Homo sapiens: one gene and its partner. The protein of the gene in region 1 interacts with the protein of each later gene in a pairwise test. Each region holds a gene or a part of one and is shown on either strand. Other genes may lie near its edges.

The links.
Region 2: the proteins of KIF23 (region 1) and RBM34 interact in a two-hybrid assay, tested with the Homo sapiens proteins (one large-scale study listed by BioGRID).

Annotation. Positions count from the first base shown.
Region 1 is NC_000015.10:69,438,033-69,441,853, reverse strand, and holds part of KIF23 (kinesin-like protein KIF23), read right to left. Parts: intron 3,607-3,821; coding exon 3,449-3,606; intron 1,951-3,448; coding exon 1,777-1,950; intron 1,547-1,776; coding exon 1,367-1,546; intron 1,087-1,366; coding exon 775-1,086; intron 1-774.
Region 2 is NC_000001.11:235,144,223-235,148,043, reverse strand, and holds part of RBM34 (RNA-binding protein 34), read left to right. Parts: intron 1-3,821.

The DNA of each region.
Region 1 (3,821 bases):
GAGGCTGCAGTGAGCCATAATCATGCCACTGCACTCCATCCTGGGTGACAGAGTGAGACTCTGTCTTTAAAAAAAAAAAAAGAAAAGCCAATCCAATTTTGGGACAACTGCACAATGTCTCAATAGAGGATAATTAATTAATGTTGATTTTCTTGGATGTGATAAAGATTGTGGCTAGGTAGTACAATGTCCTTATTCTTAGAGATTAAGTGTCTCTAAGTCTGTGATTTCCTTTCACAAGGCTTAGGGGAAAAAGGTTTACATATCTATATCAAGTAACAATTGGTAAACTTAGGCAAGGAGGGAAAGACATTACCATACTATTCTTTCTACTTTGCTTTGGGTCTGAAATTTTTCAAAATAAAAATTTGGGAAAACAATTTTTAAAACTAGGGCATGAAAGGAGGTATAAAAAATCTAATTTGGGGAAGGGGAACCAAAAGAAAAATATGGAAAGTATGCTTTAAGACACATTCACCAATTCTGTGCAAAGCTTATTAGCGTATGCAGCTGAAAAGCTCAGACTACTCTGGGATGCACCAAACTGACCTGTGTTCACTGAACACACTTCCGCTGCCAGATGTGTTTAGGCTTTTTCAGATGAGGAGCCAGGCCTCAATTTCCGTAAGTCAATCTTTCAAATTAACTGAGAAATTAGACCTTCTTTATACTATAGCCCAACCATTTTTCCAATGAACTTTCAGACACAAGTTACAAAAAACAAAGAAGATAAAATCTATTGCTACAATGCGTTAAAATAATACTGGCACTAACCCTGCCGCAATGATCCTCTTCTATTTCTATCTCATTTCTGAATGTAGGAACCACCTCCCTGCCTTCAGTCCAGTACATCCCTCGCCTTCTGTCTGACACGATACAAGTTTTGCTTTGTCCTGGCTCCTGCTGCCTACGCCTTGCAATAGATGTGACTTTGAGAGGTGTGTTGTACGTAGGAATTTTCTGCTCCCATTCCGAAATACAGGAAGCTACAGAAATGCTGCTGCAAGAGTTAGAGCGCCTATGTAGCTGTGGCTGGCTCATGAGTTGCTGGCCGTTGGAAATCTGAGCAATATAGTTACTAGAAAGCTAGAAAAATTGGAGAAAAATTAATGAGCAAGACTGAAAAACTGAGAGAAACAATTCATTACTTTTCTATAATGTTAGCACATGAAGACTTAACATTACAAATAATTATTTGTTCTATTTTTTTGTGCTAAATTTGTGTTTATTCTAAATTTTAAAATATTTTTAGAGAAATTTCAGAAATGTAAGTATTATAAAATGTAAAAATCCTCATAGAAATAGTCATCTAATCTGAACAAAATTTCTCTAGTACAAAGTTACTACACAATTACAAATAACTTACAGGCACAGGTGATGGAGAAACAGATCTTTGAGTAACTTTTTCTCGATCTCGCTCCCGAGAGGGTCTCTCTGGCTTCTCAGTTTTAGGTTCGGTAACAATAGCCTTCAGTTGTTTCAGCTTTTCATCTTTAACCCAGAGTTTATTCTGCATCTCCAGCTGTTTGGCTGCCACTCTACGCTCCTACAGATTATCAGTGGCAATGTATATTATCATTCCATCACAGCAAACGAGTACACCAGATTACCCAATCTCTTTATTTCCTAAAAATGACAGTTCTCCAATTCTTCCTGAGAGTTAACAACCACCACCAAAACCCTACCGCAAATACAATAATTCAAAATATCGAACCTAACTACAATGTAAAATAAATCATCCGACTCTGAGACAAGCACTACCCAAACGATACTCACACATTCTTTCTCCCACTTCATTGTCGTTTCTGTCACCATGCCTTGCAACCTGGCTTCTAATCTGCGTTTGTCAGAAAACTGTCGCTGAAGTTTCTGGTTCTGAGTTTCAAGTTCCTGTTGCAAATTGCGTTTATCTTCCTCATAGATAGTAGTTGTTTTCTCTAAAATCTCAATCTAGGAAGGTAGACCACTATGTTCAATATTTGGTATATAAACATTTCATGTCGCTATAAAATAGTCTTCCTTAATTTGCTTATGCAAGCATATTTGTGGAAAGAAACATCATGGAGAAAGCACTTTTTTCTCTAACATTTCATCTGAATTCCCACCCCCATTCTCAGAAATGAAAACATGTTAAACAAGCTCCTCACCCAAAGACATTTACAACTAACTTCATGTGAAAATTACTTTCTCCTAAAATTAAGGGCTAAAATTTAGTTTTTAGGCTATTTTCAGAATTTAAAAAAACTATATTGGTTGAGACTAACTTCTCTTATGAATGTGTACCCCCACCAAACCTCTAAATGACCCTCTGTAAATGAGAGAACAGACATACATTACACAGTGCTGCAATGCTTCCCAACAAAACGGTATTTCCTTCTACCCCATTGTAAGAGATTAATCCTGAGTTTATACTTTTACAATCGATTTGTAAACCAAATACAGATCCAATTAAGCTTTACTGAGTATCTGTTACGTCCAAGGCCCGATGCTGGCACTTTTATACCATTTCATTTAATCATTTATCTCATTAAAAAAAAAAAGCATACTAAGGAAATATTTCTAATAAATTCAAAAGCAAGCTACAACCAAAGCTAAGCTCTAGAAAGCTCCCTTGTTTGGGTCAGAGAACATCCTTTTCAACTGTTAAAACTCTCATAAAATTAAAGAACATATGATTCTTCATTTCACTCACATTTCCTCCTTAGCATGGGATGAGGATTAGTAAACAACCAATTGAGAACTTTTTTTTTTTTTTTGAGACAGGCTCTCGCTCTGTCACCTAGGCTGGAGTGCAGTCGTGCAATCCCAGCTCACTGCAGCCTCAACCTCCCAGGCTCAAGCTGTTCTCCCATCTCAGCCTTCCGAGTAGCTGGGACTACAGACATGTACCACCATGCCTGGCTAATTTTTTTTGTAGATATGGGGTTTCGCCACGTTGCCCGGTCTGGTCTGGAACTCCTGGGCTCAAGTGATCTCCCTGCCTTGGCCTCCCAATGTGCTGAGACTACAGGCATGAGCCCCCGCACTCAGCCTGAGAACTCTTTTTTTTTTTGAGACAGAGTCTTGCTCTTGTCGCCCAGGCTGGAGTGCAGTGGCTCAATCTCGGCTCACTGCAACCTCCACCTCCCCAGTTCAAGCGATTCTCCTGCCTCAGCCTCCTGAGTAGCTGGGATTACAGGCACTCGCCACCACGCCCAGCTAACTTTTGTACTTTTTTAGTAGAGATGGGCTTTTGCCATGTTGGCCAGGCTCGTTCTTGAACTCCTGACCTCAGATGATCTGGCCACCTCAGCCTCCCAAAGTGTTGGAATTACCTGCATGAGCCACCGCACTCAACCGAGAACTCTTAATAAGCAGCATTTACAGGCCGTTGGAGCACAATATCTCCCTCAGAGAACAGTGCTAAAACACCAGCACATACATCTATCATAATAATGTCAAAACAAACCTTATATTCTAAAGTTTTGTTTTTCTTTTCCAGTCGTTCTATTTCCAATTTCTGTCCTGAGATCATCTTCTCCTTTTCATTTAGTTTCCCTTGCATGTGGTTTTCTTTACTTAAAACAGCATTGTCAAATTCTTGTAACAAAGCTTTAAAAGCATTAGCTGAAACAAAAACATACAGGTCAAGTTTTACACCAGTTCTAAAACAAACAATGATATCAACTTTTGCTAGCAGACACTAGATAAAATGTAGTTATTCAGCAAATCTCTGTGAGAATCAGTCTATAATGAGAAAACAAGTTTAGAGGGAAATCAGGAGCTTCATTCTCCAGTTGACAAGATATTCACAGAAGCTTTCTGTTAAATGCTGAAAAAAT
Region 2 (3,821 bases), on another chromosome or scaffold:
CCTGGGTATACTGCCAGCCTGTGACCACTTGGCGTTCTCTGTTTGAGGGTTTTGGACCACACTGGTGGTGGCTTGTTACCAGTGCTCAGGGGATTTTTTTTGTTTCCCACTCAGTGTCAAGAATGAAACCTACAAGTCTCCTTGTTCGCCCTTCCATATGGAAGGCTTATTTTTCATTTACCTTCAGCTTTATGCCGGTTTCCTATTAGTCTCATATCTTGGGTGTTTTTCTCTCTTAATGGTATATGAAATGATGAAGTTTATAAGCAGATATTTCTTTATATTAGATAAAATATAATAATGTACTTTAGAAACATTTCTGGGAATCCTGTTCTATCAAGCTTTTGTATGGCAACAGTCCCTTTGGACATCTTGGTGACTTCATTTCAATATTGAGTCTTCATTTGGAGTTATTTGGCCGACCAGGTCTTCGCCGGTTTTTCCTCATAACCATCACAGTGCCAGGTGTATAGTTAAGAGTTGATAAATATATAGATTCCCACAGTGTTTGCTGAGGTAACCAAAGATGCAGATCCTCCTAGATACCAGGCATTGTTCAGTGCTGTGGTGACTAGAAACCTTAGTAAGATACAACCCTTCTTTTTGAGTCATACTTTTATTTCTGTATGAAGTTGAAACCCAGGAGCCTAAATTTGAACAGAAACAGAGGTTCTGACAGGTGTATGTACAAGTACTACTGAGGAGTTTAGTGGGATATGTTAGAAAATTGGAATTTTCACACCATACCGTCAGCTTCTCCTCCAGCCCCATCTCATTGTTTTTTTGTTTCTTTGTTTTGTTTTGTGTTTTTAACATACAAGCTCTTGCTCTGTCACCCAGGCTGGAGTGCAGTGGCAAGATCTTGGCTCACTGTAGCCTTAAACTTTTGGGCTCAAGTGATGCTTCCATCTCAGTGTCCCCAGTAGCTGGGACTACAGGTGTGCACACCACCCTGGCTAATTTATTTTATTTTATTGTAGACACAGAGTCTCATTATGTTTTTCAGGCTGGTCTTGAACCCCGGGCTTCAAGCAATCCTTCTGCCTCAGCCTTCTAAAGCAGTGGGATTATGAGCATGAGCCACTGCCTTTTTGTTGTTGTTTTTAATTTAAAATTTAATGATGGCTGGCTGTGGTGGCTCACACCTGTAATCCCAGCACTTTGGGAGGCCGAGGTAGGTGGATCACTTCAGGCCAGGAGTTTGAGACCAGCCTGGCCAACATGGCAAAACACTGTCCCTACTAAAAATAGAAAAATTAGCAGGGTGTGGTGGCACATGCCTGTAGTCCCAGCTACTTGGGAGGCTGAGGCAAGAGAATCGCTTGATCCCAGGAGATGAAGGTTGCAGTGAGCCCAGATCACGCCATTGCACTCCAGCCTTGGTGACAGAGCTAGACTCTGTCTCAAAATAAATAAATAAATAAAATTTAATTATACACCTTTTCTCTAGTCAGCCAATTCCCTACCCTAGGCAAGTGTTTTTAGTTTCTTATGTAAGCTTCTAGAGACATCTTAGCATTTAAAAACTGATACGCATAGATGTTCTTCTTCCCACATAAAACAGTTTAACTCACTGGTATTTAATATATGCACTACTCCACACCTTCCCTTTTTCTGCTTAGTACAACTTGGAGATCTGTTTATATTGGTGTGAAAGTGATTATTTTTATAGCATTTTTTAAAAATGCCCTTTTTCTTAGAGTATTCTCTAGGTGTGCCTTAATTTATTTTATCAAATCTCCCACTGATGGACATAAAGTTTTTTCCCAGTCTCATGACCATTACAAATAATGCTGAAGGCCGGGTGCAGTGGCTCACGCCTGTAATCTCAGCACCATTAGAGGCCAAGGTGGGCAGATCGCTTGAGCCCAGGACCTCCCTGGGCAAAATGGCAAAACCCCATCTCTACAAAAAATTAGCTGGGCATGATGCTGTGCACTGTAGTCCCAGCTGCTTGGGAATCAGACGAAGGAGCACCTGAGCTCAGGAAGTGGAGCTATGATTGCACCCCTGGCACTCCAGCCCGGGTGATAGAGTGAGACCCTGTCTTCCAAAAAAAAAAAAAAAAAAAAAAAAACCTGCTGTAATATTTTAGCTGGTCATGGAGGCACGTGTCTGTAGTCCCAGCTACTTGGGAAGCTGACGTGAGATGATCACTTGAGCCCAGGAGCTTGAGGCTTCAGTGAACTGTGATCACACCACTGCACTGTAGCCTGAGCGACAAGCAAGACCCGCTCTCTCAAAACAAAACAAATAATGTTGGAGTAAATGAGTGACCTTGTACTTAGGTAATTTTGTACATAAGCTAAACTTATCTGTAGGATAAACTTCTAGCAGTGGCATTGCTCAGTCAGAAGGGTATTTGCATTCACAATTTTGACTGCTGTCTCGTAGAGATTGCAACCTATTTATGTTCCCACATCTTTACCAACAGTAAAGTCTTTTACTTTACAAAAACAGTATGTTGGCCAGGGAAGATGGCTCATGCCTGCAATCCCAGCACTTTGGGATGCTGAGGTGGGTGGATTGCATGAGCCTAGGAGTTCGAGACCAGCCTGGGCAGCGTGGCGAGACCTCATCTCTACAAAGAAACAAAAAAATTAGCTGGGCAAGGTGGTGCACGCCTGTAGTCCAGCTACTCTGGGGGCTGAGGTGGGAGGATCACTTGAGCCCGGAGAATGGAGGCTGCAGTGAACCATGATTGCACCACTACGCTCCAGCCTGGATGACAGTGAGACCCTATCTCAAAAAAAAAAAAAAAAGTATGTTTTTGAGCTTTGTGGTTGTTGGAAACCTGAGTGTGGTATTTCTAATTTGAATTTCTCTTATGAGTGAGCATCTTGTCATGTAATTTAAGAGTCATTTGTGCTTTCTTTTATTTGAATTATTAGTCTTATTGATCTGTGGGATGTTCATGAAATCAGTCTTTTGTGACATGAATTATGAATATTTTTCTCTATTTGTCATTTGCTATTTGTTTATTTATTTAATTTATTTTTTGAGACGGAGTTTTGCTCTTGTTGCCCAGGCTGGAGTGCAATGGCGTGATCTCAGCTCACCGTAATCTCCGCCTCCCTGGTTCAAGTGATTCTCCTGCCTCAGCCTACTGAGTAGCTGGGATTACAGGCATGTGCGCTACACCTGGCTAATTTTGTATTTTTAGTAGAGACGGGGTTTCCCCATGTTGGTCAGGCTGGTCTCAAACTCATGACCTCAGGTGATCTGCCCCACCCTCGGCCTCCCAAAGTGCTGGGATTACAGGCATGAGCCACCGCGCTGGGCCTTATTTTATTTTTAAGAGATAGAGTGTTGCTTTGTTCTCCAGCAGAAGTGCAGTGACTCAGTCATAGTCCACTATAGCCTGGAATTCCTAGGCTCAAGTAATCATTCTGCCTCAGCCTCCCAAGTAGCTGGAACTACAGGTGCACACCACCACACCCTAGCTTGTTGGCTTTTTGACTTGGCTTATGGGAAATTTTGCCATGTAAAACTTTTTTCCTTTTTCTTATAGCCAAAATGTTTAAAACCTTTTTTTTTTTTTTTTAGTTTATTAAGGCTACTTCCAGTAAACTGCACATATTTGACATGTACAATTTTATAATTTTAACATATGTAGGCAATCTTGAAACCACTGCCATAGTCCAGATACCAAACACTTTATCATCTCGAGTTTCTTCTAACCCTCTGCAATATGTCCCTCCACCTCTGTCCTCAGGCAGCCATTCATTTGCTTTCTGTCTCTATGTGTTAGTTTGCTTTTTCCAGAATTTTATATAAGTAGAGTCATCATACAGGATATACTCTTGTCTAATTTGCTCAGC